Linked DNA regions of Homo sapiens: region 1 is linked to region 2. Evidence: fine-mapped expression QTL. Tissue or cell type: whole blood. Region 2 holds a variant in brackets; the other region holds the start of a gene. All regions are shown on one strand. Distances are from middle to middle.

What was found.
Region 1: it holds the start of DDX31, and the variant in region 2 is fine-mapped to the expression of DDX31 in whole blood (TOPMed, PIP above 0.99).

What each region holds. Positions count from the first base shown.
Region 1 is chr9:132,663,917-132,674,361 of GRCh38, reverse strand. It overlaps DDX31 (DEAD-box helicase 31), which reads left to right and starts at 4,379. Exons shown (of 20, transcript NM_022779.9): 1 at 4,379-4,502. The coding sequence starts at 4,428. GTF3C4 (general transcription factor IIIC subunit 4) reads right to left here and starts at 3,898. Exons shown (of 5, transcript NM_012204.4): 1 at 3,407-3,898. The coding sequence starts at 3,763. RefSeq lists enhancers at 746-795, 3,890-3,969, 3,655-4,522 and silencers at 3,610-3,739, 4,160-4,309.
Region 2 is chr9:132,613,903-132,624,359 of GRCh38, reverse strand. It overlaps DDX31 (DEAD-box helicase 31), which reads left to right. Exons shown (of 20, transcript NM_022779.9): 18 at 5,919-6,030. Among named protein-coding and RNA genes, the nearest start is that of BARHL1, 37 kb to the right of the region's middle. The variant C/G (reference allele first, on the strand shown) is at 5,916.

The sequences.
Region 1 (10,445 bases), 50 kb before region 2:
ACTCTCCCTATCACAAAACTGTTAACAAATCAAGTATTCAGATGCCCAAGGAGTATACTTAAAAAGTCCAGCTCCCAGAGGCCTGCCCGCAGCCAATCATTTAATTGTACACCATCCAGTTTCCAGTTGACCACTATTAGGTTGGTGCAAAAGTAATTGCGGTTTTCACCATCACTTTTAATGGCAAATACTTTTAATACTAACTGTTAGGCATTTTGTAAGCACCTGACAAAAATTCACTTGAAGCTTTTAGACAGTAAGCTTCTTGAGGACAGGTAATAGAGTCCAAAGACAGGCAACAGTTATTTAACTTAATGTAGCAGATGAAGTTAATACTTTCTAAGGCTCCTAACAATTGATGCACAATACAATTCGGTACACAAATATTATCAGAATTTGGAACTATACACAAATGTCTCACTAGATGAGTCACTAAATCAGTAGTCCAATGGGAAAAACAATTCTGACATTCTTAAATCACTATTTCATTGCTTTTCAGATTTATACTGTCCACCTTTATATCATACAATCTTATAAAACAGCTGATAATTAATGTCTGAACTATTACATAACTGCAGATTTTCCTGCAAATTCATAATCTAAATAACAGAATTATAGAGCAAAAGCTTCAAAGGTGTTTAGTACCTAGCTTTCTAACAGTGCTACACTAAAACTGTCATCTGCGCTGCAGACTGTCCACCATTTAGGTTAGCGCGAAGGCATGCTGCACGGCACCGAGCAGATTTAAATCCACAGACTGCCAATGGGTGGAGTCATCAAAGTGCTGACACAGACTTCTTTACATTCCTACCGTCACACCAGTTTTAACCCACAGAGGGCTCTTGTAGAACTGCAGGGTCAACTCAGCATTCATTCACTTCAATCAGTCTAAAAAGACTGCTAAATGACTGATGGTTTATGTGATGTGCATATTAAAAAAAAAACAACAGTACAGAAGGGGAAGATGTTACTAATTAATTTCATAGAAGCCATTTGTCAACTATAAGAGAGCTATATAAGGATTTCCTGTTACTAGTTAGCAGTTGTGGTAAATGTTAACTGAGGCAAAATGACAGTCAAAATTTTATCAGAATACTCATGTCCACAACCACGACATTAATCCAGACTCCTACTCCTTCATACCTGTATAACTGCATTATATTTTCTTTCTTTTTTTTTGAGACGGAGTCTGGCTCTGTCGCCCAGGCTGGAGTACAGTGGCGCAATCTTGGCTCATAGCAAGCTCCGCCTCCCGGATTCACGCCATTCTCCTGCCTCAGCCTCCCAGTAGCTAGGACTACAGGCGCCCGCCACCACGCCCGGCTAATTTTTTGTATTTTTAGTAGAAACGGGGTTTCACTGTGTTAGCCAGGATGGTCTCGATCTCCTGACCTCGTGATCCGCTCGCCTCGGCCTCCCAAAGTGCTGGGATTACAGGCGTGAGCCACCGCGCCCGGCCCAACTCATTATATTTTCACCTTGAGCATTTACAGCGTGCCAAGAACTGGGCCAAGTGATTATGTGTGTTTAATCTTCCAAAAAACCTAAACAACGCTTCATTATCCCCCTTTTATAGATAGGCCTATCTTGTGCCAAAGCCCAGTCTCTTCACTTTTATTTTACACTGATCACAACAATCATCTTCTTGCCTCTATCCAGTAATGTTCCTGAACCACAGCAGGTCACTCTATGCTAATGAAACTGTAACAGCATCTTAAAGACTTCCTAGATTGAAGCCAACTTCCTCATACCGACCTTCCAAGTCCACAAACTGGTCTCATCTTACTTTCTCGGACTCTCTAGAAGACCTACTTGAGCTCATGTACTGATCCGTCATTATACAAACAATAATTAATTATGTTCATGACTTAAACGTGTATGCACATGGGATGAATGCCTCATTCCTGCCGCCTGGAATGCCCTTTCCTTCCTTCCTCTTACAAACCAAACACTACCTTCTTTAGGACTGCTGCAGATTCACCACCAGATGACCTGCCCCATAAGTCTCTCCCCTTACTACTCCCTCCTTTCTTTACATTCTCTCTGCTAAGGTATTCGATGTCTACTATACTGACATACATACTTTCCTTGAGTTGCTGTGCGGATGAACATCCTTGGAAACAGTTAAATTCCTTTACAGCAGAAGATACACCTTTTAAATCACCTTTCTTCTGCCTCCCTCCTTTTGTATTTCTCAATTTCATAGGGTTGCATCTGTCTATCTGATTTGTTTACACTTGAACAAATGTGTTCATATCTTCTTCAAGAAGATCTTAGAGGAAGCTTAGTCATACAAGCTGACTAACAATCTAACAACAGAAAGATGTTTGAAACTTGAATTAAGTATGCTACAAAGTGATGAGGGTTATCTGCACCCTACCTATAGCTAATGACTCATATTTTCAATGGTTTTCCAAAATAAGAGTTTACGAACACATAAACATGTTCTCTATGTGCGGATACACATCTTTACAGTGCTTATCACTACCTGACAGGACCTTATCATTTGTGCTTGACTTGCCAAAGAATGTAAGCTTCATGAGGGCAGGGGTTCTGTTTTGTACACTGCTTTATTTCCAGAACATGGGGCAGCACCAAGCAGAATGGTATTCAAATATCTATTGAATGTATGAATATACACTGACAGTTCACATGTAAGCGTACACCTCTATCAAGGATATATGGAAAGTTTTTACACCTCTAAGCAACTAAAAGGAACGCTATGGCTTACTACTTGACCTTGCGCTTGAAGTTTAAGATAGGTAGTTGTTTCGAATCTTTATTTTCATTCAACATCCCAAAGATGTTTAGCTAGTAAAGAAAAACTAAAGTACAAACCCCGAGATCCAGTATTTACCCGTTTGCCCAAGGAGAGGCGAGGACCATTCATAATAAAGTCACTGAAACAATTAAGACAATGGATGGGACCAGTTTTTCTTTTCTGAAGCTAAAGAGGCGCGAGAGGAGGACACACACAGTAGACAAAGCCAGCCAAGAACCTCGGAAAGTCGGCCCCAAACAATAGCAGCAACGACAGAGGCAGGCCCCGGGTTGGATCTACAGGGGGTGGAGTCTCAGAAAGCACCATCGAGTAACCCGCTCCATGTGCGGGCCCGACGGAGGGGCGAAGGAGGGGTTCCTGGGACTCAACTCCGGGAAGCCCCCTGGGTGTGTACCTGTGTTTGCGGCGGCGGGTGACCTGGGGAAACAGGGTGCAGACAGCTGCAGAGCTTTTCTTTTTTTTTTTTTAAGCTGTGGTAACCCTGGCTGCTTAATAAATCCCCAGCGCTCGGTGCGAAGAGGGAAATCCCCGGACAGAGTGTGGGATCGGATTCCCCTGGGACGGATGATGCGGCCGCGAGAGGGGGACAGGGGAAGACCCCAGGGATGGCGGGGGATGACTTACTTTGAGGAGACAGCTGTTGAGCGGTGCGGGCACCGAGGTGCGGTGGATAACCAGGTCCTGGCCCGGGTTGTGCACGTCGCAGATGAGCTCCAGCACAGCGATGCTGCGGGCCGTGGACACAGACACGCGGTGGTCCTCGGACCAAGCCAGCGGTTCCAGGCCGCTCACCGCATACTGCAGCTTCACGGCCGGCTCCCGCCGAGTCACCATGAGGCGGAATGCAGCGCTGGGCCCCGGGGCCGCGTCCGCTGCTGGCTCCTTCCCGCCCGCCTCGCCGCCCCCCTCTCCCTCCTCCTCCCCAGACGGCGCAGGCCCGTCGTCCGCGGGCCCCACCCGGGCCTGGTCGGCCGTGTTCATCTTCTCTCAGGTGCAGAGGTCGGACGCCCTGGCGCTCCACGCAGTCGCGCGACCACCTCCCGGACCGCCGCCGCCACCCCCAGCGCCCTCCGCGGCGGTTTTCTCCCCTCAGGCCCCGAGCGCCGCCGAGCCAAGAAGGACCCCGCCGTTGCCAGGCAACGCGGCCCTACCAGGTGGCCAAGGAACTGCCTGTCCAGAAAAAGGACAGCGAGCGGGGAGCCCCGAGGACCCCCTTTTCCCTGCCCAGGGATTGAGCTCCAGAGCCTGTTAGGGAGCTACCCAGACAGGCTTTAGTTCCTAAAGTGCTGAGGAAACGCACGGGGCGGTAAAGGGGAGGCTCGTCGGTGAGATGGCGCCGGATCTCGCTTCTCAGAGGCATTCAGAGAGCTTCCCCAGCGTGAACTCTCGGCCGAATGTAATTTTGCCAGGCCGCGAGGGACGCAGAGAGGGGCTGCCACCAGGCGGGGGCACGCGCGGTAGTCTTGTCCCTACCCGCCCGGTGCCGCCGTCCCCGGCTCCCCTCGGGACGAGTCCGTACAGCTGGAGCCGTTCCGGACCCGGAAGGGGCGGTGGCGCAGGGTCCTCGCGCGTCCCACGTGGGGTCCCGGGCCCAGCAGTCTGCGCACCGGGCTCGCTGCTGCACCACGCGTCACCCACGCAGACCATGGCAGCCGCCGACGGTTCGCTCTTCGACAACCCCAGGACGTTCTCCAGACGTCCCCCAGCCCAGGCGAGTCGGGTGAGTTCTGACCCGGCTTCAGCTCCGTCCCCACCCGCGGCCCGGCTGTGGGCGCGCCGCGAGCTGCAGCCGTGCCTTGGAGTCGGGTTTCGAGTCATTCACGGAGTTAAGCGGGAGAAAGACACCGGGCAGCTTCGGGACAAGTTGCGCCGAAACACGTGTCTCTAACCGGAACACCACCCGCAGGGATGCGCCTGGAAGCGGGGAGTGGAGCGGTGTGGAGGGGCGGGGAGCTGGCTCCTGCGCCTAGAAAAGTAAAGGAAGGAATTAGAGGCTGTTTCCCGTGGAAGGTAGGACCTGAAGTTCCGGCGCAAGTCCCAGGCCAAAGCTTAACTTCTCTAAGCCAGTTTCCTCGACTGAGTGCGGACTAAGCTCTGATTTTTTTTTTTATCTTGCCCACATTCCTGTCTGGGAAGAGTCATGCCCTACAAACCATAAATTCTCATCAGATGGCTTTCATTTAACCCTATATATCGTGACTTACTTTCCAAACTGGCTCTGGCCTAACATTATGTGACAAAGAAGAAAGTTAAAATATTACCCCTAAACATGTTTCTTTGCCACATTTTGAAATGGCTTTGCAAAGCTGTTCTTTGGGGGGGGCGGGCGGGGTGGACATTTGCATCTGCAAAGAATCTCTATTAACATAGCTAGATCTTTTTCTTCCAGGCCCTCCCAATCCTAAAGAGATTAAGAGTCTACCACCTTTCAAAGATCTGAATAGGAAACACTTGTCTGTTGTCTCTAAGGGCAGCCACTAAAGACTTGAAAAGAACCTTGGTCTCCACAATCTTTTATCTTAACCTGAGCATTTTCTTTGTATCCATCCCAGGTGTTTAGACAAACTCAACCGTCAACTAGAAAATGTTTAAATTTACCTATAGCCTGGAAGCCCCCGCTTTGAGTTGTCCCACCTTTCTGGACAAAACCAGTGTATTTCTGAAATGTATTTGATGTCTCATGCCTCTCTAGAATGTATAAAACCAAGCCGCGGCCGGGCGCGGTGGCTCACGCCTGTAATCCCAGCACTTTGGGAGGCCGAGGCAGGCGGATCACGAGGTCAGGAGATCGAGACCATCCTGGCTAACAAGATGAAACCCCCGTCTCTACTAAAAATACAAAAAATTAGCTGGGCGTGGTGGTGGGCGCCTGTAGTCCCAGCTACTCGGGAGGCTGAGGCAGGAGAATGGCGTGAACCCAGGAGGCGGAGCTTGCAGTGAGCCGAGATCATGCCATTGCACTCCAGCCTGGGCAACAGAACGAGACTCCGTCTCAAAAAAAAAAAAAAAAGCTGCACCCCGACCACCTTGGGCACATGTTCTCAGGACCTCTCGAGGGCTGGATCATGGGCCATGGTCACTCATACTTGGCTCAGAATAAGTCTCTTCAGATATTTTTGAGTTTAACTCTTTTGGTCGCCATGAGGAAGGTTCGTTTGTTTCAGGAATGAGGACTGGCAACTAGGAGTTTTTTTGAAGAGCTTTCAAAAATGGGACAGATTTTCATCCCCATGCAATGGAGGGGGATAGGAAAATCGGTTTCATTGATATAATCCCATTGCTAGAGAGGGGTAAGATGCCCTAGAATTAACTTAAGCAGTAACTGAAAACTGGTTTCTAGGATAGTTGATTTGTCTCTTAGAAAAGAGGACTACAGGACAGAAAGACTGATTAAAATCATAAAGTGATCATCAAACTTTAGGATTTAGATGTTTGGCAGTAAGGAGTCCAGCTAGCCAAGTGTAGCTGCATCTGGGTGGAGCGGGGAGAAGGATAGAAGAGCCACTGGGAGCATGGGATTTGGAATAGGATACACTTGGGATTCGGATGCTGCCCTTGCTGCACACTAGCTCTGTGACCTTGGAGCAAGTCACTTAATCTTTCTGATTCTCACTTTTCCTATCTATAAAATGAGAACAATAATTTCTACTCCATAGAAGACTATTGTAAGGATTCATTGAGATAGTATACATGAAGACTATACGTTGTCTGGCCCATAGAAGCACTTAATAAATGCCAACAGTATAAAGTAGTTTTGGCTCCATTTTGGATAATAGATTGCTACATCAGGAGGTCAGTGGGGTGCTTGTGTCCTCTGCAGAGCCTGGTAACTAACACATAAGAAGCATTGAGTAAATACATATAGGCTACCTAGTTTTATGGTTATCAAAAGGGGATTAATTAATGCAGTGATGACAGGTGTCTGCGGTGGCCTTGTCTAGATCTACGTTTTTTGTTTTGTTTTGTTTTGTTTTTTTGAGATGGAGTCTCGCTCTGTCTCCCAGGCTGGAGTGCAGTGGCGCGATCTCTGCTCACTGCAAGCTCTGCCTCCTGAGTTCACACCATTCTCCTGCCTCAGCCTCTTGAGTAGCTGGGACTACAGGTGCCCACCACCACACCCGGCTAATTTTTTTGAATTTTTAATAGAGATGGGGTTTCACTGTGTGTTAGCCAGGATGGTCTCCATCTCCCGACCTTGTGATCTGCCCACCTCGGCCTCCCACAGTGCTGGGATTACAGGCGTGAGCCAGCCAGGCCTAGATCTACATTTTCATTGATGTCGTGAATGAGAATGATGGATATGCTGATGAGACTTGCCAGTAGCCTGAACTTGAGATGGGTAGCTAATATACTGGATTTAGAAAGACTAACAGCTTAAATTATGCTGTATCTAACACTATGCAGAAATTTTCTCTCTAAAAATACTTTCTGGGCTGGGCGAGGTGGCTCACACCTGTAATCTCATCACTTTGGGAGGCCGAGGCAGGCAGATCACTTGAGGTCAGGAGTTGGAGACCAGCCTGGCCAACACGGTGAAACCCCATCTCTACTAAAAATACAAAAAAAAGGCTTGGCGCAGTGGCTCACGCCTGTAATCCCAGCACTTTGGGAGGCCGAGGCCGGTGGATCACGAGGTCAGGAGATCGAGACCATCCTGGCTAACACAGTGAAACCCCGTCTCTATTAAAAATACAAAAAATTAGCCGGGTGTGGTGGCTGGTGGTGGGTGACTATAGTCCAAGCCACTCGGGAGGCTGAGGCAGGACAATGCTGTGAACCCAGGAGGCGGAGCTTGCAGTGAGCCGAGATTGCGCCACTGCACTCCAGCCTGGGCGACAGAGCGAGACTCTGTCTCAAAAAAAAAAAACAAAAACAAAAAACAAACACAAAAATAGCTGGGTGTGGTGGTGGGTGCCTGTGATCCCAGCCACTCGGGAGGCTGAGGCACGAGAATCACTTGAACCCAGGAACCAGTGGAGGTTGCAGTGAGCAGAGATCACTGCACTCCAGCTGGGGTGACAGTGTGAGACTGTCTCAAAACAAAAGCAAAACAAAAAAAAATTTCTGATATTAATACAAATTTATTATAGAAAATTAGGAAAAAAGATTTTTAAAAACCCACTCATAATTGCCATACTCAGACAATGCTTGTTGCCATTTTGGTGTATGTCCTTTTAGAGAACAACTCAAAATTGGAATCACTACACATGATGTTTTCTTTTTTTTTTTTAACTTATCAAAAATTAAGAATTATTATGAAGCTCTATTTCTTCAGACAGTCTGGAATAAGGTGCAAAACTGTACAAATTGACCAGCAAAGGAGAAAAGAGAGCCCAGAAGCAGACCAATACAAAAATGGAAATTTTATTCATGACCGAGATGACACTGCAAATTGCTTAGGAAAAGCTGACATTTTTAATAAGTGGCACTGGAACAATTGGTTGTGTGGTTGTGTGAATTTAAAAACTGAAATTGGAACCTTATCTCGCACTATGTATAAAAAACCAAATCCATGTGGATTAAGACTATACAAGGCAAAACTATAATGTTGAGCAGAAAGAGTAAGTTTCCAGCATACACATGTTTTCTAAAGCAAAGAGGATGCAGTTAATAAAAGGGATTATAGTATTGTTGTGAGGCCTCTAGAATGTAGAATCATGATGCCTGGGGAAAGCCTGGTTCCTTCAGTGATTCTGGGACAAATTACGTCACATCTCTGCCTCCATGTTTGCATCTTAAAATGAGATGATAACAGTACCTGTGTTGATAAATGAGAGAATACATGTGAGTACTTAGTATACTCCTTGGCATATAGTAACTACTCAGTATGTTTATTAATATCAAAGCCATGGCATCTTAGACTCTCAGGTCTTGATGGGCCCTAGAGGTCATCTGCCAAAATCCCCTCATTTTACAGGTGCGGCAACAGAGACTCAAACGAATTTTTTAGTAGATTTTTAGTAGATTTTAGATTTTTAGTAGTAATTTTTAGTAGATTCAGATATGTCCTTGCTCCCTCTCTGCTCAGAGGCTACCTCACGAAGCATTCTTGGTTTTCTTGCCTCCCTCTCCTTTGCCAGAAGGAGGCCATGTTAGTCTAGCTTTTGTTGGTGCTCTCATAGCCTTTTTTATGTACCTCTTCTGTAGCACCAATGTAGAGGTTGGATTTATGCCTTTATACTTTTGTCTCCTCTGCTAGTGTGTAACTTCCTCAAGGGCTTGGCAAATCTACTTTGTATCTTCAGAACGAAGCTTCTTGACAACTGCTAAATGAATGTGTTTTGGATGCTGGGGGAGAAAAGCTAACAAGTAGTAGAACCGTATCCAGCTGGTGGAAAGGGATAATTCCATTGTGTGTTATTCATTCATCTTACAAGTATTTGTTGAGTGCTTACTCTGCCAGACAGGGGCCTATACAGGGGATACAGTGCTATGTAGGACAGACTGGCCCCTTTCTTGTGGAGCTTACAATCTAACGGGAAAGACAGACATAAAACAACGAGTTCCGTGCTATGCTTATTATTTTGTCGAATGCTATGGAGGAGAATACGGGTGCCAGGAGAGCCAAGAACAGAGCACCTTGGCTTGACTGGGTGAAGAGAGGTCAGGAAAGGCTCTTCTGAGGAAGGAGTTGGTCAGCCTCCATCTGAAGGATGAGTACAGGGTGGCCAGCCAGAGGGCAGAGTGGAGTCCTGGATGTGGGAGTAGCATGTGCAAAGGAGGAGGAAGGAGCACAGCACATTCTAGGAACTGAAGGAAGACCCGAGTGGCAGAGAGTAAAGCTGAAGCTGGTGAGGTGGCCAGAGGTCAGATTCTAGAAGGCTTTGTTGATCATATTACAGTTTTTTTTTTTTTTTTTTTTTGAGCGAGGGTCTTACTCTGTCACCCAGGCTGGAGAGCAGTGGCATCATGGCGTCATCACGACTCAATCCAGCCTTGACCTCCCGGGCTCAGGTGATGCCCCCAACTTAGCCTCCAGGTAGCTGGGACTACAGACATGCACCACCATGCCCAGCTAATTTTTGTATTTTTTTGTAGAGACAGGGTTTCACCATATTGCCCAGGCTGGTCTCGAACTCCTGGCCTCAAGCAATCAGCTCACCTCAGCCTCACAAAGTGCTGGGATTACAGGCATGATCCATGGCACCTGGCAATATTACAGATTTTTTAGTTCAGCCTAAGAGCAATGGAAAACCTAATGGGTTTAACTCTGAGTACTTGCTTTTAGAGAGATGTTGACATAGGAATAAAGGGTGACCAAGATGATAAAGGATCTAAAGTTGTGTCCTGTTTGAAATATTGAGTCCAAAGAAGAAAGAAAAGAGAGTTATGTGATATATGAAGGAATGTTATGTGTTAAGAGGAAGTAAGCTTGTTCTGTGTTGCTGCAGAAAGTATACCTCAGACTATTAGGTAGATGTTCAAGGATGCAGATCTTGCATAAATGTCAGAGACAGCTTCCTGATTCCTAGAATGGGTCATGAACAGAATGGGCTGCCTCATGGGATGCAGGAGGTGTGCAGGGAGAGGCTGCCAGTCCACCTGCCCGGGACTGTCAGGAAGTCCATGTATGGCGGGAGTGGCCTTTAAGAGTTTTTGTGCTCCAGGAGTCCTGGGTCTGTAAATCAGGTGAAGTCTGCACATTTCATACTGTCTTGCAAAT
Region 2 (10,457 bases):
CAAGTCAGTACTTCATATAAGACTCGTAAGCCTCTGGACCACCCTTTATTAAGTTTGTTATTAGGGGTGTTGACCTGTGACCAGACAGATCTTCATTGGTCTTGGCACACTTCCGTTCTTTTGGAACTATCATAAATTCTAGTTAAGGGGCTTTTTTGGTTTCTTCTTTTTTTTTTTTTTTTTTTTTTTTTTTGAGACGGAGTCTCGCTCTGTCGCCCATGCTGGAGTGCAATGGCGCGATCTTGGCTCACTGCAACCCCTGCCTCCCAGGTTCGAGTGATTCTTCTGCCTCAGCCTCTTGAGCAGCTGGGACTACAGGCACATGCCACCACGCCCAGCTAATTTTTTCGTATTTTTAGTAGAGACAGGGTTTCACCATGTTGGTCAGGCTGGTCTCGAACTCCTGACCCCATGATTCACCCGCCTTGGTCTCCCAAAGTGCTGGGATTACAGGTGTGAGCCACCGTAGCCGGCCTTTTGGTTTCTTTTTTAATGTTCCCCCAGATACTTCATTATGGCTCCAGGGCAGCTCTGTGGGATCAGCAGGGAGCAGATGTGGATCTGTTGGAGGAGGCAGTGTAGCAGAGTGGCTAAGAGCATGGCCTTAGGGTCATGTTCCTCATCTGTCACCAGTGTGTGACCTTGGGCAGGGACTGGACCTCTCTAAGCCTTAGTTTCTTTTCGGAGAGGCAGTGTAGCAGAGTGGCTAAGAGCACGCCTCAGGGTCACGTTCCTCATCTGTCACCAGCCTGTGATCGGACCTTTCTTTTTTCTTTTTTCTTTTTTTTTTCTTTTTTTTTTTTTTTTTGAGATGGAGTCTCGCTCTATCGCCAGGCTGGAGTACAGTGGCACGATCTTGGCTCACTACAACCTCTGCCTCCCAGGTTCAAGCAGTTCTGCCTCAGCCTCCCAAGTAGCTGGGAATACAGGCGCATGCCACCATGCCCACCTAATTTTCGTATTTTTAGTAGAGACGGGGTTTCACTATGTTGGCCAGGATGGTCTCAATCTCTTGACTTTGTGATCCGCCCGCCTCAGCCTCCCAAAGTGCTGGGATTACAGGCATGAGCCACTGCACCCGGCCTGGACTGGACCTTTCTAAGCCTCAGTTTCTTCGCACGTAAAGTTGAGATAAAATAGTGTTCTTTTAAGGACGTCAGAGGATTGTGTGGGAAATAGTCCTGGAGTCCCAAGTATAAAACATAGGACCAAAGGGCTTTTTTTTTTTTTGAGATGGAGTCTTGCTGTGTCTCCCAGGCTGGAATGCACTGGCGTGACCTCAGCTTATTGCAACCTCTGCCTCCTGGGTTCCACCGATTCTCCTGCCTCAGCCTCCCAAGTAGCTCGATTACAGACACACACCACCATGCCCGGCTAACTTTTGTATTTTTAGTAGAGACGGGGTTTCACCATCTTGGCCAGGCTGGCCTCAAACTCCTGACCTCAGGTGATCTGCCCATCTTGGCCTCCCAAAGTGCTGGGATTACAAGCATGAGCCACCACACGCGGCCCAAAGGGCATTTTTTATTATTACTGTAACTATCAGGATTATTTGTAGTCATACAAGTTAGTAGCAGATGTGGAATTAAAGCCCAGACTCAGGGACATGAATCCCAGTGCCCTTTTTTGCTGTATCATAATAAGTGGAACATTAGCATCTGCCAGCTCTCTAGAAATAAAGGCAAGTAGTACAATTACACAATGAGATAGTAAGTTTGATCAAACGTCGTCTCAGGTATACTCTTTCTGGGCCTGGCATTGGTGTCAGTCTTTATCCCCGAGTGCAGATCATTTCTCTCCAGGGAGTTGATCACTGTGTGTCTGCGCAACGCAGGGAAGCTGTAGAAGGGCAGGAAGCCTCTCCTGAAGGACACGTCCCCAGAGAAGGAGCGGAGCAGCTGCATCTCCCTCCACTCTGTCAGCAACAAGCTACAGTCGTTTTTTTTTGGTAGCATCTGCCCTTCTGTGGCCTTGCAGCATAAATTCTTCTCCTTAAGACTTTCCCTGGCTTGAGGCCAGCCTCAAGGACTTCCTGAGACTTGAGGAGTGGCTCTAACTTCATGAGTAAGAGCCAGGTCCCAGATAGATATGAGTTTGAGTTTGAATCCTTGCTTCCCAGCTGTTAGCTCTGCAATCTCAGGCAGATTATCTTCTCCCCAGTCTCAGTTTTCCCATCTGTAAAACATACAATTGCTGTGAGATTTAAATAAAACGAGGTATAAAGTGCCCTGTAGAGTTCCAGACCTCATAGATTCTTAGGTCTAGAAACTCTGTCTCATGATCTCAGCCCCAGCTCCTACCTTGATAGACAGTAGTGAATGCTTGGATATTTTTAAGGTTTGGTGATTTTTTTTTTTTTTTTTTTTAAGAAAAGCTGAGTAAGTTTGGGCTTTCATGATATAACTGGTTAACTTAGAAAGCTAAATTAACCATCCTACGTTGTAGGTGTCATGTTGGTGAAGACCTGGCTTGCTGAGCCAAGTTTAACTTGAATTCAGAGGAAAAAGAAAAACTAAACTAAATTGACTGTGTTACTAATTATCACATAGATATACACAACCCGAGAGAGTATTTTATGTGTGATTCATGTCAGTAGTAAGAAGAATAAAGTAGATGCTGGATACAACTTTTAAATCTGTTATGCGTAAGAAATAACGTGTGTCTTAATTGCTGTCCTCAATTTGAGCAGTTCTCTAGCATGTGAACTAATGCCAGGCATGTAAATGTGGGTTCAGTAGCTAGGCCTTTCGTTCAGATAGCCAGACACCTCATTACAGTGCCCCTCTCCTTCACCCAGCGTGATTGAAGCCCATGGTAAATGTCCCTTTGGCACATACATTTTTGGGCTTCTGTGAACAGAAAGAAAGCGAGTGAAGCATCTGTAAAATGTATATTTCATATTTAGGTATATAAAACATATATAGCTATGTCTGGGTGTGTGAATGTTCACCTACCTACAAAGAGAATAAATTTGATCTTTCAACTTTACTGGGAAGCACTCAGAAGGTTCTAGGGACCATGGGGGTAAAACTCAGCTTGGCAATAAAGTGATTAAAACAAAACCCTTCCATTTTGCTTAAAAATACCTTGGAAGTTGGCAATATCAAGGTGCAGGCTTTCACAAAAACCTCCCACCTTTGCTATTACTTTTTATAATAAAAATAGTCCAGCCTATTTATCTTAGACTCATCTGTTGCTTCTTGATAGGTGTGAAATCTTCATCATCAAAGTATACACACACCCAACCATGTTTTTCCTACAAGCGTTTTTGTCCTGTGAAATATACCTGTAAACTTATCCCAACAAAGGAGCCGTTGCTGGCATTGCGAGATCTTAAAATAAGTTCAGAGCCCCCTGCTCATCCTTTCTGATGGCCTGTGTTTTCCAAGATCAGTAGGATGTTAGAGACAAAGGTGCATTGCGTGCGGATGGATGGTTGGAAATGTGTTTTTCTAAACTACCCATGGTCCACTAGTTGAAGTTAGCTTCATTAACCAGTACTGACTCTGTGTCTTGGAGGGTGGGAGAGCCAGCCCTGCCAGGTATCCATGTGCCCTCAGGGGTTTGACCCGCTCTCATTATAGGAGCATTTTACCTGTCGGGGGCTGAGATGGTGCTGCATAACTCTGCCCCCCTCTGTCTTCAGTTTAAATTTAGACTGTCCTCCCCAGAAGACAACTGAAAAATACCTCATTCATTCTCAAGAGGGGCAATTTTAAAATAAGGTATTTCTGGAAGCAGGGGTTAGGGAGGAGTAAGATTTTTTTTTTCCTAAGTATTGTATATATTTTTTTCTGCCATTAACTTTTTCTTATATTTTACTAAAACTGACCTTATCATTTCAAACCTGTGAACCTAGTTCTATCCTGTTTTTTTTTTCCCTACGTATTTCGCTTGTATACACACTCACATTATATATATGTAATTTTTTTTTTTTTTGGTTGGGAAGAAAAGATGCCTCATTTTGAAACCTAAAGGGGGGAATAAGAAAAGCCCTTTGTAATATATTGCCATATTATCACTAAATCCCCTGACAGTTGTGACACAGAAGCAAGTCACCTGTCACTTAAGCTTGAGGTCTCTTTAATTTTCTCCTGGAATTCGCACCAGGCTGTCTTTAATTTGAGGCCTTTATTGGAATTCTGAAACCTCTCTGCCTCCCTGGCTCTCAGATCTATTCTGAGAGCTGTTACAGAATGTATACAATAACCAACAGAGGGATTCGGAGAGGGCTGGAGCTCTGTTTATTTAACACTCTAGAGGGATTTTTGTGCTTATTCGGTCCTGGCTGCCCGGCTTTCAATATTGCTTTGACAACCATTCTGCCCTTCTCATTAATTTTAAACAGTTAAAACACAAGAAAAAGAGGAAAAAGTTTTCATTATTAAAGTGCTTTACTTTTTAATAACAGAGGATTCTGTCCGCCAGGGGAAAGGGCATCCTCGCTAATTTCACATTCATATTAAAAAAAAAAAAAAACACAGGGAAGGTGACAGTTGCGCTGCTGAGGTGGCTTAACGAAAGGAGGGCAGCAAAAAAAAGTTTGCATTTCACATCAGTTAAGAGGGTAAAAAAAAAAAAATCCTTGTTAATGACAATAGCAAATGTCCACTTTGGTAACACGGCTCCTGAGTGACTCTTCTCCTGACATTTTAGCGGATAGAACCCTTAGGGGGACCTTGTATTGAACTGTGAAATCAGCGAGACTGTCATCAACCAAACAGGTAGCAGGAATGATTTGACTAAACTAAAAACATTTTCACGTTGTTAAGTCTCTTAATATAGAGATGAACGTCGATCCAGAGAATGAGGCTTTTTCTTTCCTCCCCTTTGTTCTTCCTCTGTCAGCCTTAAAGGTGAAAGAGAGGCTCAGGGAGTCTTAGTGAGGCCAGATGCAGGCGCTCATACACCGTCCTCTACAAGGTTAAGCAGCACGACCCGGTCTCACTCTGGATTTTCCCCGGGGGTTCACACCAGGGTGGCAGGTGGAAGTAGAGGCACTAGCACCACTCAAGTGATCAGTGTCACTTGGCAGGTTGGCCTCATTGGGTGGAAGAATCTGTGTTCTCTTGATTTCACATTCAGTAGAAAGCACTCATGTTTGTTTTACGATATTGGAGACAAAAGCCACTAGTTTTTAGCGGGGATATTTAAAAAGGAAATTTTTTTCTCTGGTACTGTTAAAGGATGAAAAGAAAATAATTGTCTATTTTATTAACATTTTCCATCTGTAGGCTCTTTGCATGCACACAGATGCTACTTCTTACACAGGGACGATTTGCTGCAAAGATCCAGGCAGTCTTTGAGTGTGTTGTCCTGGAACAGCCCACTCACTCCTTAATAGGTTCCTGGCCACAGTGGCCATGGGCTGGAGGAATAAATTTGAAACACTAGAAGTCTGAACCGCTCTAGGCACTGAGGAAGCCTGCTCTGAAATTCAAGGATGGGGTAACTTTTAAAAGCAGAATGTTAGGCAGGTCACTGTGGAGTGCTCATGAAGAGAAATTGTCGGTGTTCCACTGATGCGCGTGAGGGAAAGGTGAAGATTCCTAGGAGATCCAAGACCCATTTGAAAACAGCTCATGTTCAGTGATGTTTTAAATGTCTGAATTGGACTTGGAAAATTCCAAAGTGTCTCCAATGGTCTTTGATTTTGAACATGCATGGTAAGAGGTCAGGAAGAAAAGTAAGTAAATAAGTAAACAGACCTGATGTTCTCTCTCATAAAGCCACCCTCATCCTTACTTGACTTTGACATCTCTATAGCTCCCTTTTTTCCTAGTAATATTGAAAGGATTACCCTTGTTGGCCCTAGGTGGTTACTGTGTGATTTTACTGTTATTAAATCTATTATAAACTGCTTCATTATTCCTGACCTTGACTCTATCTCTCCTTTAATCCTTCCGTCGCCCTCT[C/G]AGAAATCCCATGCTGTTGGCCCCCAGGAAATCCGAGAGCGAGCCACAGTCTTGCAGACGGTATTTGAAGATTACGTGCACTCCAGTGAGAGGAGGGTCTCCTGGGCAAAGAAAGGTCAGTCGATTTCCTAGGTGCTTGCGCAGTGGATAGCCCAGCAGAGTGCTCTCCCCCACCTTCACCCACATACCCCCAAACCGGTTGAGAGGCCAACATGGAGGTCCCTGCTCACCAGCCAAAGCCTTCAATCTCCATAATTCTGCAGGGTTTGGAAGCAGGCACGGAAGGCTTTAAAGTGATATTAAATGTTAATTTCATCCTTCCCCATGTTTTGCACAAATGAGGCTTTATCTTGGCTTATATCGGGACTAGAGTTTTGACCCAACAACTTGGATCTTAAGGATCTGTTTTCCTCTTTCTTTGAAAACCAGATAGAAGACATGTGACACGTTAGTAGAAATAGTTGTAGAGATGGAAATTAGAGATGAAGGCCAGAGCTGGAAATATTAGACCTAAGCAGTTCCTATTTGAAGGCACAAAGAAAAACGAGAAAGAACAGTACTGAGGAAGAGCCATAGACCATGAACCCAATTCCTAGGAAATTTATGAAAGAGAGAGGTGTTGACTTAATATTCAGACCCTTTGTTGGATAAGTTGGCTCCTGGGATCACCATACATTAGATGTAGACTTCACAGTTCACGTTGAGTAATAAGCAGTGTATGGCTGAAGGGGGTTTGTAATCACTGGTACTTTTTATCATGGGATGTCTTGGCCAGAGACTGACCATGTCTAATGAGACTTACTCCATGCTGGAGTATGCACAGGGTTTTTTTGTTAGTTGCCTGCTATTTTGAGAAGAGTGCCAGGCTGGCTTACCAATATCGGAACACTGTAGCATCCTTTCTTTTTATAAATAGAAATGCTTTAAAAACCATTCATTTGACAAATATTTATCAAATCGGGCACTATTCTGAGTGCTTGGAATGCATGCGAGATCAAAACAAAAATCCTTGCTTTGTGAAGCCAACATGTTAGTGGGGTGCAGGGGCAGCAGACAGTGAACATAATAAACATAACAGATTAGTCCATTTAAAGGTGACAAGAGCTATGGAATAAGTAGAAGGAGATGGGGGAGGTGAAGGGGTGACATAGCAGAGTGCATTTTTAATGGGGTCAGAGTGAGCCTCATTGTGTAGGTGATACTTGAGCAAAAACCTGAAGTGGGATGAGCCCCGTGGCTCTCTAAAGGAAGGGCATTCTGGGCAGTGGGAGCTGGTGCAGACGAGCTCGAGGAAGGCAGTGTGGGTGGAAAGGGGGTGCTGGCCAAGGCAGAATCACGTAGGACTTTGGGTCTTGGTCGGAATGAAGGGGGAGCAGAAGTGTGGGATCTGACTTAGGTTTGAAAGAGATCACCTGGCTGCTGTGTGAGAATAGACTCTAGCGGGGGCAAGTGTGAAAGCTGGGAGCCTGGCTGAGGAGCAATTGTGGTCACCAGAAAATATAGATGAAAAAATGGGTTAGTCAGCAAATATTGTCAAGGACCTGTTACATACCTTTAGCACATTATAATTGCAATTCTTGGTTGTCGTTAAAAATCAGAACCACACAAGGTAAAAGATGAAGTCCCCGTAATTGCCATTGTATATCCTTCTAGACTTTTCTCTAATAATATCCTGTCTTGGCATTTCCCTAAAGGGAATTCAACAATTCCCAAGGGTTTTCCTACCTTGCTACCTCTAGAGGAGTATTGCTCTGTGTCTCTCAAGAGGAATAGGGTCTTTGTCACAGTGTAACTTTACAGTTTGGACCTTTGATGAAAGTTAGGCAAATTCAGCTGGCTGTGCAGTACATAACAAGGTGTTGTGCTGCTGAATTCCAGGGCTGGTATCAAAGTTGCAGTGGAAAGAAATAAATCAAACCCACACTGTCACCTTCGATTTTGGTGTCAGTGATGCCTCAGATATTTTGGCAAGACTACAACTATTTCAAGGTGTCTCGGTCATCTGAGTGGAAGTTACAGTAATTCTTAAAGGATGTGGTTTTGGGTTTTCTTTCACTGTTATTACCATTGAACTTGTTAATACCATGAAACAAGCAGGGTCACTTGTCTTTTGTTTAAGGAATATTGGAACAGGGTCACTTCCCAATGTTTATGTACCATGAAGGAAATAAACGTATCATGTCTCTTATTTGCTAATCAATTTCCACACCAGATTGATAATGGGCTGGGACAACACCGCCTCTTACAGAGCTCAGTCACCCCATTTCAGACATAAGTCTCGCCACCATTCCTTCTCTCCTGTTTCTTAGGACTGAGTTTTGGAGGCTTGAGAGAGTATACACGTATTTGCCACCCTAAATGTATTGAATTTACTGCATAGGAACAGCCACTGCACCCCATAGGTGGAGACACTCTTTTGCATTTCAATCTGCATATGCAAATTCCCCACTATTGACTTGCTTCCCTTTTATGCCATTTCAGAACCCACCTCCTGAATAATTAACAAAGCAGCTGGCTTTTGCCTTGATGGCAGAAAACTAGTTAGAAACTGGGCCAAGTATGTATTTGTTTTCCTTTTGCATTTTTGGACCCAGTCATTGTTAATAACCAGCATTTAACTGTCAGTTTCCAGAAGCAGTTACCCCTTTTTTCCTCTGTTTTCTTGCATCATTTAGCTAGGGATTCAAGTTGTAAAACGAGTGGTAACATAAGTTTGAATTCCAGATTCCCGAACAAAAATCTTGGAAGCTAGAGTCCTCTGCCTGCAAATGACCATTGCTTCTGTGGCTTAATCCTCTCCATCTTCAGGTCTTCCTGCAGACCAGGAACTCCATGTAGGATTTATGCCTGTTTGGAAGGGATGCTTCTCAAAGTCTAGAAAACCCACACCAGTGATGACAAGTCATTCTTCTCCCCTCAGTGGGGTCAGAGCTAGGCTGGGCACTTTACCAAATGCTTTGTCTTGAAGAGAACAGCAGGGAACCTCCTTTTCCTCCATCCTTTCCGTAGTTGTCGCTGTAGGTGTTGGGTGGTCTTGAAGATGCGTGTGCCTTTATTCTGTACTGAAGGGTGCTCTTGTGGGAGTGGAGGTGGGGTTGGGAGGAGCAGAGATGATCTTCACCTTCCAGGCTGGAGGTTTGTTTATTTCTGTCTCCTTCATCTTACAAGTCATCATAAGATACCACTAGTTTCTGATCCAAATGTCCAGGAATGAAAAAGGACGATGTGTCCATGTGAGATACTTGAAAATAGATTTGCCCTAATTCAGGCACCTTAAGTAGTTGGCAAGAAATAGGAATCAGTGACTGCAAAGTGCTGAACTCTGGTGGCCTGTAGCTTCATCCGTCACCCCAAATAAATGTCTGCTTTCATTACTTCTCCACCTTCCGCTTGTGTGGGTCCCACAGCCCCTGTTCCTTCTGCACATTCTCGACGCTGCCAACATGAGCACTTCCTGCTCCTTGAAAGGTTCTGCAGACAGCTACTGCAGCGTCTTTGAAATTCCTGCTTCTCTGAATTATCCAAACATGGGAGTCCATGCAAGTATGTGAGAACAACCAACTGTCGCTGTCCCCGGTGAGACAGGAGCCTTGAGGACAAGGAGGTTTAGTAAAAATATGCAGTGTGAAATGCTGCCTGGCCAGTTGTCTGGGGAGAAAACACTTCCTGCCACATCTTGGCAAACTCATTATCCCTGTAAAGCTGTTAGCTGGGCACCTACATCTCCTGGGACAGATGCTCTCAGTGCTCAGCTCATAGGATTGGTGGAGAGGAGGAGAGGAAGAGAGGTGACCAGGGTGGAAGCCCAGGGACTCATCTGCATACACAGAAGAGAGGTAGGAAATGAAGAGACCTAGAGCGGGATTTGGGTAACTGAGATTTTAAAAGTGCAGGCTCTTGGCATGGTTTCGGCTTGACTTGGTTTCGGTCTTGTCTTTTTTGAGACCAGAGTGAGTGTTGGGGGTTGGGGAAAGAAAGGTTGAGGAGAAGAGGCTTGAATCTCCTGGGTCGCGTAGCAGTAGAGCCTTTCCCTCTGAGGGCTTGGCTGTGGGGCTCTGTATCTAGTGGGGCTCTGTGTACTCCAAACAGTACAGACCATTTGAAGCGTTAAAGATTTTCTTTGAAAAAGTCCCTAGTTATTAAAAAGGGGAGTAAGCACAGATTTAAGAGTAGGGTACAGAGGAGTTGCCTTGGTTATTATTGCTCATCGATTGGGAAAAGGAGTTCACTTTACTCAGTAAATAGAGCTTTGATGGATTCCCCAGGATCCTTCCAGGAGCTGATCTGCTAAAATGACACTTTTTATTACTGTTCATAAACGCCAATCTCCAGGTGCTGCTGGGATATTATGTTTAAGCTGTGGGCAAACTTGCCAGTCCAGTGGCTCAACAAGGAGAGTGAGGAAGCGAAGGCTGGCATTCAGTGCTTGCCTCCATCAGACACCATCGGCTGGGCTCTGGCTCAGCTGGCAGAAGAGCAGGATTGGAGGTGAAGAGAGCAGTGACAGGGATGGCGGGGAGTGTTTGCAGGATGTCCCCCTCC